Linked DNA regions of Homo sapiens: region 2 is linked to region 1. Evidence: fine-mapped expression QTL. A gene starts in region 1. The other region holds a variant in brackets. All regions are shown on one strand. Distances are between the middles of the regions. Region 1 holds the start of PEX3 (peroxisomal biogenesis factor 3). Region 2 overlaps PEX3 (peroxisomal biogenesis factor 3).

Region 1 (5,392 bases):
AACCAGAAAAAGAAAACATTAAAATATTTTCACTTTGGGAAAAAAAAAAAGGGCATTACTGGATCAAAGGATAAGCTCACTTTTAAGGCCTTTTATATCTGCCTAGCCAAATTGTCCTAATAAAAGGGTGTTCTACGCTTTTACACTGTTGGTGGGACTGTAAACTAGTTCAACCATTGTGGAAGACAGTGTGGCGATTCCTCAAGGATCTAAAACTAGAAATGCCATTTGACCCAGCCATCCCATTACTGAGCATATACCCAAAGGATTATAAATCATGCTGCTATAAAGACACATGCACAAGAATGTTTATTGAGGCACTATTCACAATAGCAAAGACTTGGAACTCAACCCAAATGTCCATCAATTATAGACTGGATTAAGCAAATGTGGCTCATATACACCATGGAATACTATGCAGCCATAAAAAAGGATGAGTTCATCCTTTTCATTTGTAGGGACATGGATGAAGCTGTTAACCATCATTCTGAGCAAACTATCACAAGGACAGAAAACCAAACACCGCATGTTCTCACTCATAGATGGGAATTGAACAATGAGAACACTTGGACACAGGGTGGGGAACATCACACACCGGGGCCTGTCATGGGGTTGGGGGGAGAGGGGAGGGATAGCATTAGGAGATATACCTAATGTAAATGACGAGTTAATGGGTGCAGCACACCAACATGGCACATGTATACATATGTAACAAACCTGCACATTGTGCACATGTACCCTAGAACTTAAAGTATAATAATTTAAAAAAAGTAAATTAAACTTAAAACTTTCAACTTTGGCTTAACTAGAGTTAACTTTATCAGCATATTAAATAAAAACTGTAATATACATGTTACATACAAAAAAAAAGGGTTTTCTAAATTCAGCTCCTCCCAACCAACAAACACCTCAAACATGCACACCCTTATTATCACCAAGCATTAAAATTGCTTTCACTTTTGCCAATTTAACAGGTAAAAAATTGTGTATCATTTTAATTTGAATTTCATTAATAGTGAAATTGTGTATTCATTTATTTGCTGGCTACTCACTCGTCACTTCTTTTAGAAATATCATGTTCAGGTGAGGTGTGGTAACTCACACCTGTAATCCCAGCACTTTGGGAGGCTGAGGTGGGACAACTGCCCGGGCCCAGGAGTTCAAGACCAGCTCGGGCAACACAGAGAGACCCTGTCTAAACCAAAAAAAAATCTTCTAAAAATAAAAAGAAATTTTAAAAAGAAATATATTCATAGCCTTTGACCTTTTTCAGTATTAGGGTATACATCTTTCCTTTTACGTCGGAAAGTACTTAGATTTTATATAAATTATATGCTACGGTTATTAAACCTGTCCTTTTATATATGTCGCAAATATTTTCCTTCTTTGTATTTCCTTTACTTTGTATCTTTTTCTTTTTTGAGACAGGGTCTGGCTCTGTCTCCCAGGTTGGAGTACAGTGGCACAGACACGGCTCACTGCGACCTCAATCTCCCAAGGCTCAAGCAATCCACCTTCCTCAGCCTCCTGAGTAGTTGGGACTACAGGCACATGCCACCATGCCCTACTAATTTTTAAATTTTTATTTAGTAGTGACGGGGTCTGGCTAAGTTGCCCAGGCTGTTCTTCAACTTTTGAGATCAAGAGATCCTCTTGCTTCTGCCTTCCAAAGTTTTGGGATTACAGGCATGAGCCACTGCATCTGGCCATGCTACTTTGTATCTTTTTAAACATGTAGATGTTTTCAAAGAATTTCTAGACCTCTCTGGCTTTGACATTTTTTGTCTCTTAATTGTATTATAAACACCTAGGGATGTGATTCCATAGTTTACGTCCTCCTACACAGGATTAAGGAGGCAGCTGCTTCTTGGGTTTTAGCATATACAAGTTTCTTCAAGGTCTTAAAGGAAAAAAAGTACTTGTTAGGAGGGCTACATGTCACTGGGCAACAGGAACTTTTCAGCTTCATTATAATCCTATAGCACCACCGCTGTATATGTGGTCCTATAAGATTATAATGGAGCTGAAAAGTGCTAGCGAGCTTCTTAACTGGGATAAAAGTTTGTTTGTAAACGTATGTAAATGTATTTACATGTGCTAGCCCAGGGTCAACCTAAAAGGTAGCGAAAGTGTTTAGCCCAGAAGTCTACATAGAAACTAGGGTTGTCTACCTCCATACCACCCTGAATGTCCCCCGATCTCGGAAGCTAAGCAGGGTCAGGCCTGGTTAGTACTTGGATGGGACAATAGGGCTAAGGTGAGTAGATTTAATGCTCCAGGATAACGACCTTTACCGACAGGTCATTGTGTGGCACGTGGCTGTATGTAGTTATTAAAATGTAAATACATATATTTACAAACAAACTTTTTTTCCCAGTTAAGAAGCTCGCTAGCACACAGCATTCTGTTGAAAGCCCCCTTTATTTCGCAGTCCTGAAGGGAGTGAGGGAAGGAAGTAAAAGGGCAGAGGAAATAATGAATGAATGCGAGACGCCGATTGTACAGGGACTTGTTTCCATACTGCTCTCTACCAGAAACGTTCTCAGTTTCCTTCCTTCTGCTGGACATGTTCCAAGGGCCAAAACCTCAAATAATGTGACTTTGTAGATTGGAGAGTGTGTGACCACAGAAAGGAAAGGGAGGCAGCACGTGCCAGCCGGCGACAGAATGTTAAGTCTGCAGCATACTCCACCGCAATGAAACAAATAATTTGTGTATTTCCTCCCCTTCCTTCGCCCAGAGCCACTGTGAGAATGGGCTACAGAAAGTTTCGAGGCAGTAAAGCCAGTTGTTCACCCAGAACATCTGACTGCCATAAAAATTATGGTGACGAGAAAGAACGTTTGCTCAAATGCCGGGGTCGGGTTGAGGGCTGGAGAAAGGTCCCACCCCGCAGCATCTACCTCCCGGGCTCCTCACCATGTGCATCGCCTCCTCCATCCACTTTTCGGTCTCCTCTGCCGACACCGAGCACGCGCCGCTTGCAGCTGGCTTGGGTGCCGCCTTCGCCTCCATACCCAGCCACCACTCAGCTACAGAGCCCGCGGCAGAGGAGGAGCGCGGGCAGCGGAACGCGGCGGGCCCGGGACCCCGTTTCCGGGGGTAGTCTAATGAAAAGGCACTCGGGAGCTATTTCTGAACGGACCTGGGCTTGTCGGACCAGTGAGCGGCGGCGGCTGCGCGGCGGCAGCGGCAGAAAGCGTAGCTGCTTTGCTGTAGTCCACGCCCCCTTGCCGCTCCGGTGACAGTCTCTGCGGAAAGTCACGTTTGTGATTTCGGGAGAGCACAGAACGGGACGACGGCGCTCTTGCTGGGTCATCTGGGCCAGGTGACGAAGAAACAGTTTCCTGGTGAAGCAGTCCCTCACCCCTAGTCAGCCCACACCCCTAGGGCCTAAAGATGCTGAGGTCTGTATGGAATTTTCTGAAACGCCACAAAAAGAAATGCATCTTCCTGGGCACGGTCCTTGGAGGTGGGTGACAACGTGCTTGAAAGGGGGCATTGGGAGAAGGGGGTGGGAGAGGTGACTTCTTCTAAAATAAGGACAGGCCGGGCGATCCTAGTCTGGGATATGTAGAGGGAGTTCGATCAACCATGGGATGAAAAGGGAGGTGGCCAACCTCCAGGGTTCTCCCATCTCTGCAGTTGAGAAATGCCTCTGTGCCCTTTGCCCTGTCACCGACTCTTAACTCTGTTTCTCACCTATCCTTTTTTCTCACGGACCTTTGGAGAACTCATCACAGTTTAAGTTTCTGTTTCAAGGCACCATTCTCTTACAGGAACTTTTTAAAAAAAATTCTGCTTTCCTGTGAGATTCTGCATTTCTCCTTGGCACTCTTGATACTTTGGCTCTCACCCTTCTCAGGAGTTTAATAATAATCTAGGGAAGTTACCTATAGGCTGCACTTCGGGTGGTGGTTAAAGTCGATTTGAATTTTTGAAAACAGCGCAGTTGTCCTAAAGGACTGAAAGATATGGATTAGATAAAGAAAAACAAATCAATATTTTAGCTCTGTTTCTGCCATTTTAGAATACAAACTATGGCAGTAAGAAAAATGCTTGAGGGATGTTGTGCAATCTTCCTCAGGATCTTCAAGGTTGGGATCATTGTAATCTAGCTGACATAACTGAGTTGCACAGGCCCAGAGGAGATTTAGAAACAGATAAGATAAAAATCTTGAGACGCTTTTCCCTCATACAATGCTCATGTGATAATATTCAGGGATTTGAAGGAGGGAATAAAAGTTTTGTGAATTATATGAAAAGGACATCTAGGAACTATAAAAGAGGAAATTTGTTAGAACTTGAGTTTTTGAGAAATAGTCTCATCACTTATTACATGCTATGTTTACAAAAGTACTTAAAATCAAGAACAGAGTTTCCCAAAGAATTTGGTTGGCTTTTCTCTTAGTATTAGATTGTATTCTGTTCTCCCCAAACAATTTGAAATTAACAGTACGTATTAGATTGTATTCTGTTCTCCCCAAACAATTTGCAATTAATACCTTTAGCATCAATAGTTCAGATTTTGGTGATGCTTGAAAGTTTGAAACAGAGTTCTTGTTGCTGAGCCAAGGATGGTGTTTTGCATGTCTCTGAGGTCTATCACACATCAATAATAAGCATATGTAAATTTTGAACACCTTCGAGAAATCCTTTATATATAAAAGGTATTTTCTGATATCTTCAGTCGCTAGTATCTAATGTATATTTAAATTATCCTAAGACTACAGAGTCCATTTTATTTATAAAAGCTAAAAATATATGTGTGATTGAAGAAATACAAATAAAGTATTTTTGCGTTTACTGAAGGAAGGAAAATTATCTCTTTAGCGATCTCAGAAGGAATACTCCTTCAGCTTATGGAACAACTTTGTAGTAGATTAGAAATAATCACAGGGGAAGCAAAAGAGTATACTTAAACTTATAATTTTTTTAAAAAACTAACAAGAGCTTTATAGTTACAGAATAAGAGGAATGCAAAAAATAGAAAAGTTCAGACGGCCAGAAAGAGAAAATAATCCTAGTGTTTTATATCAAAAAAGGAGTCAGTCTGAAAAGAAAGGAAGAGTAGATGACCGTGGTTGGCATTTGTTTGAGTCTCATGTTCTTTCTGCTTCAGGGAGAAAGTTCTACAGTGTGTTAGATTTTAATTAGTCTAACTTAAGAAATACCTATCAAGTGCCTGTAATGCTGAAGGTAATATAAATGGAAATACAAGATTTATATATTTTTAATAGTAACAGCTACTATTTATTGGGTGCCCACTTTACGCTGGGCATTGTGCTAAGCTCTTCCTATTTAAGCAGAATGACAAGAAGACAATTATTATTATCCCCATTCAAAAATGTGGCAGCAAGAACCCTAAGAATTTAAGAAACTTGCCTCAGGT
Region 2 (5,392 bases), 37 kb after region 1:
TGTATTACTTTTATAATTAAGATGTTAAAGTCCTGTGGGGTCATTTCAGAAAATAATCATTACTGTAATGATTTTTCAGTCTTTCCAGTGTCAGCCTGCCTTTAGCTAAGATAATTCCAATAGTAAACGGACAGATCCATTCAGTTTGCAGTGAAACACCTAGTCATTTTGTTCAGGTAAGAAGAAAGCTTGGGAGTGTTATTAAAAGCAAATTATATTTGTGGTGGTGGTCATGTTTGTCTAACATAAAGTTACATTCTCTGCTGAGAGGTTTTTTCAAAAAATCACAGAACTTGGAACTACATGTAGAGTATGGTAGAGTGTCCCATGAGAGTAATAACGGACCATAGCAAATGTGTAAGTTTGGAGTACCTTTCTCCGTGTTGTAGTCCAACACTGTGGGACTACATTTTAGTCCAGGTGTATTATAGTGGTCAGTTGAATTTATATAGCATGAATGTTTGCATTAAGCTGTGCTAGTAAGAAGATTGATCCTTGGGGCAGATCAAGGATCCTGTTCTACACATTTTGAGGAAAACTAAAAAAATTTGTGGAGAAGTAAAGCATTTTAGTGATTAATAAAATGTAACAGTTAATAGTGCATCAATAATATGCTCACTAAAAGCCACATAAACAGTGGGTCATTTAAATGTTTTATCAGACTACCTATAACTCCATCTTATTTCTTCATTTCCATTTGGAATGCATGGAGTAATTCAGTAATTCATTGAGTAATTCAGTAATTCATTGAGTAAGACAAATATTATAAACAAAATAACTTTGAATTTCTGAGTCATGTGCAAACTTGGAAACTGTGTTATAAGTTAAAAAATTGTTTGCAATGCCAGTTGCAAACTGCTTCAATAATGTACAATGAGAAGAGACCCTATGGCCTAAGCATAAAGCTGACATCTTCTTAGTGTAACTTGTCTCAGACAATTTAGTGTATCCTCTCTGTAGACTTTTTACTCTTGGGAACGTGGAGAGCACTGAGACTAAGAGTTCGTTTCCTCCTTTCACTGTGGTGTCATCAGCCTGTCCTTCACATGCACATTTTCCCACACTGGACTCTTCAGTCTTCTGTCCTCTTTCTCACCCCTAAGAGCTTGGCACTCATATTGCAGAAGAAATAGTGAATAAGACTGATCTCATTTTACTGAATGTTAAGCTTCACATCTATATCAATGTGAGAAAAAGGTCATAACTTGGGGCATTTAAACCTTACCTTTACCTTTGTCCTCTTCTGTAGAAGTCCCTGGCTTGGCCAGTAGGCTGTTCATTTTGACAGATGAGTGGAAATTACAACCAAGCATAAAGCATCATCAGCCTTAATGCTTAAATAATTTTATGCACTACACTTTAATTAAAATCGATATAATTGATAATAAAAACAAATGTTTCAATATGGTAAAAACGCCATTGATACTAATGTTTAGTAAAGTTTTTTACTGTAACTGGATGTATATTAAATGTATATACTAGACCATTGATTGACAAGGCTATTACAATTATAGTTTAATTTTTTAAACTATAATTTCTATGAGTTAAAATACCAAGTGGTCTTCTTAATAAATTGTCATATGCTTTACTATTTCCACTTATCTTTTTATAAAGCCTTTGCCTTGATTAGAATGCTAATTTACATAAAATTAGTCCTTTCGAATTACTGCTACTACTTCAACTACAATGGTGTGTAGGAGAGCCTATGGTGGGAATGCTGTAGAACAGGGGTTTGGCAAACTGTACAGGGCCAGATAGTACATACTTTAGGCTTAATGCAACATACATTCTCTACAGAAACTATTCAACTCTGCTCTGGCAGTGTGAAAGCAGTCAGAAACGTACATGAACAAAAGAGTATGGCTGTTTCAACAAAACTTTATATACAAAAACAGGCGGCAGTGGATTTGGCCTGCAGGCCATACTTTGCTGACCCCTTTGGTAGAAGATATTAGGATGGTAGTTGGTAAAGGTAGGAAATGGGAGAATCAGAAAACAATCGAGAAAGGTGGTTTTTCAAATTATTTTCAAATAGCTTTCAAATAACATAAGCAGGAGATAAATTATTTCAGATTGCTTTCAGATAACATAAGGAAAGAGCTTTTATAGTGTGAACCAACCCTATGATACATAATTTTTATCTCAGACTACTGAAACATCCTAGAAGCTGCATCAGGATACAGTATTTGAACAGATTAAAGTCTTTATTATAAAGCTGATATAAGTTAGCTATGACCTATGAGCCAAATCCAGCCAAGCACCAGCTTTTGTAAGTTTTATTGGGTGACAGCATGCCCATTGGTTTATGTGTTGTTTATGGCTGCTTTTGCACTACAATGGTAGTATTTCTCAGATTTGTCCATACACCTCACATACATATGTACACACATATACCACAGTCCTCCAGTGTTTAAATCATTTTTAGTGTATAAATTAAAAACTCAATAAGATCCTTAAGATTAGAGCTTTTTCGTAACTCAAAACCAAAGCACTTTTATTGTCAAGTAGAATCTAAATTACAAAAAAAGATTGTTCTATAATATGGCTGACGTCTACTATTAATAATTTGTTGTGCCAAAGTGAATGTGGACCTGTCTGCTACTGTTCATGCTGTTGAGCATTCAGCCTGCATTTTCTGAAGCTGACTTGCTAGTATTTTTTTTTTTATCTACTGTAACTATTCTGAAAGCTTCATTTGTATCATGTGTTTTACATGATTTGGTCTTCATTTGAAAGATTTTCTGCCTCTGTTCTTCTCTCATTAGCACAAGACAGTTAAAGTAATGTTACTTAAAGCCAATAA[G/T]AACATAAATATAAACAAATGCCCTAAAATCAGGAACAATAGTAGGTTATATATTTTATCTTCTCAATAATCAAGAGCGTGTTTGAGTTTTCTTTACATTTTCATAGAAATCAAAACACAAAATTTCCCCTCAAATTCTTGGGCCCCTGAAAGTATGTCTGTAAATTCTGGTTTGAGAAACATTGATCTAAACCTATGTTTCATTGAACACCTAGACTGAATACTTGAAACTAAATAACATCAAATTCTCTGATGAGATAATTTAACCATGAATTGATTGAGATTAGGACATGTCTAAACCTCACTTGGATTTTCCGATACTTAAGAAACAGAGATCACTAGGGACAGGTTTACTTCCCATTTCTTTGACACTCTCAGAGGCTGTCAACCTTTTCTATCATGGACCCTTTCACAGACTGGTGAAGCCTATGGACCCCTTCTCAGAACAATATTTATAAGTGCATACAATAAAATACATAATATTATAAAGGAAACCAATCATATATAGTTTTCAAAATTTCTTTTAAAATTAAGTGTATGATATAGCGGTATTGCTTCTTTATTCATGCATTAAATACCAAGATATAATGAGAGTTCTGATAACTTCCACAACTGTCATATGACATGAAAATGCCTATGATTTCTATTGAAGACAAAGTCATACAACCTGCTAATATTATCACAGTTTGTTGCCTACATTCATAATTGAAAGAGATACCAGATTTTGGTTAGAAGTTAAAGAAAATGAAGGTGTAATTTTTTTCTTATCTTCACATTCGCAAATCCCTTGGGGTGTTAATAACCCTTACACTATAGTGTATATGTGTGGTTCATGTATGTGTGTATATGTAAAATATGCACTTACTACACATATTCATACCGTATGTTAGATCTTCTAGAAAGTAATACACCCTTAACCGTGTTATGTCAGCTTCCAGCAAAAGTACCTTTACTCCTACAATTATTTATTCAACAGATACCTATCTAGCACTTGACATACACCAAAATTCATTTGAAGACTATTTGGGGTTTTTGTCCCTCAAAGTCACACTTGAACGCTTATGATACCATCATCCCTCATATAAGAACCTAAATAATAACTATCTCCTAGAATTTATTACAAGAAAAACTACTCATTTTCTTAAATGGTTTGCCTCTTGGCCTTTACCACAAAACTTAGAGCTGAATTCATCGCTTGATTGCAGAAATTAATTCAAATTAGCTATATGTTTTGCAAACTATAATGTTATATTATCATCTTTGCTAGGATCTGTTGACAATGGAGCAAGTGAAAGACTTTGCTGCTAATGTGTATGAAGCTTTTAGTACCCCTCAGCAACTGGAGAAATGATTTTTCCTTCAAGAAAAACTACAGTGGGATTCATTTACTTTTTAAAATACACTGGGTAAATCACCTATACTTAGAGTAACAGTTTGTTATCAAAATGCCTGATAAAATATATTCTTAATAAAAGTCTTCATTTCATAATGAAATCAATTTATTTGGCATCTTAATATATTTTTTTAGATTCATCAACAGACCAGTTTTTGTGGGCATATATATATACACGTGCAAATATCAGAATTGTTAATAATTTGTTACACATGGACATTTGTTCCAAACTGACTAAAAATCAATATAGATATTTTATATACATATATATATATAAAAATACAAAATTCAGTGTACTTTACCATATTAATACTGAGGAAAAATCTGTTGGAGACATAGGTCTAGGATGTGTGAAGTTTGGAAAAATATGCTATTTAATTATAATGTTCCCTAGACTGCTGTAAACAGAAGTGAATCAGACTTTTCTCCAGCTACCTTTCAAAATAATAAATTATTTGTCTCAAATATACCTTGATGGAGGACTTTTTTATTCTTATGGAAATAGTGAATTCCAACAACTATGATGAACTATGTTCTTTGCTATTTCTTCACTATATTTTTTAAGGTTTTATTAAAAAGCCTTAGAAAGTTACATATTGGTTTAGAGGCTAAAATTGTGTTGATGCTGTTTACTCACCTAATTACATAGTTTTAATCATTTGTACATAATTTTAAAAACTTACTTTGTATTGATTTTGAATACAGTGAAAATCTTATTGCAATAAACTATTTTAGTAAAATATTATTTTGTTGAGTTAATATTTTTCAGCTATTAATTTACTTATCCCATAGCATTTTTGTTATTATTTCGGAAGAGAGAGCATGCTAGTTTAAGTTTCATTTTAATTGGTCGTGTACTTGGTGCTTTTTTGTTGTTGTTAACTTGTTCATTTAGTAAAAAGCAAATAGCTTTACTTTCTGAAAAAGAAATAATTCATTATCTCTAGTAATACATCTGTAATTCTTCATTTAGAAGGGTAATTAGGGCAAAAGTAAATAAATCATTATATATCATTAGTATGTTGACATATATTTTCAGTAACATTGTTTTATGTTCCTCCAGCGTAACATGTAGCTGAACAGTAGAAGGTAGAAAATAAATTATGACATCTCTTCTAAGGCCTGGCTAGGCCTGAAGCTCACTGCCAGGGAGTTTGTGTCTAGAATGTTTTTAAAAATAGGTAGTGGAGCCATAG

Evidence for each region. PIP is the estimated chance that this variant, and not a neighbour inherited with it, causes the effect. A credible set is the group of variants that fine-mapping cannot tell apart.
Region 2: its variant is the best candidate, but not a certain one, in a credible set for the expression of PEX3 in blood mononuclear cells (TOPMed, PIP 0.65).

What each region holds. Positions count from the first base shown.
Region 1 is chr6:143,447,644-143,453,035 of GRCh38, forward strand. It overlaps PEX3 (peroxisomal biogenesis factor 3), which reads left to right and starts at 3,162. Exons shown (of 12, transcript NM_003630.3): 1 at 3,162-3,472. The coding sequence starts at 3,400. ADAT2 (adenosine deaminase tRNA specific 2) reads right to left here and starts at 3,052. Exons shown (of 6, transcript NM_182503.3): 1 at 2,920-3,052. The coding sequence starts at 3,015. It also overlaps the pseudogene RNA5SP221. RefSeq lists enhancers at 2,058-3,040, 2,843-3,002 and silencers at 2,083-2,162, 2,223-2,302.
Region 2 is chr6:143,485,073-143,490,464 of GRCh38, forward strand. PEX3 (peroxisomal biogenesis factor 3) reads left to right here. Exons shown (of 12, transcript NM_003630.3): 11 at 80-176; 12 at 4,071-5,392. The coding sequence ends at 4,154. Among named protein-coding and RNA genes, the nearest start is that of FUCA2, 24 kb to the right of the region's middle. The variant G/T (reference allele first, on the strand shown) is at 2,804.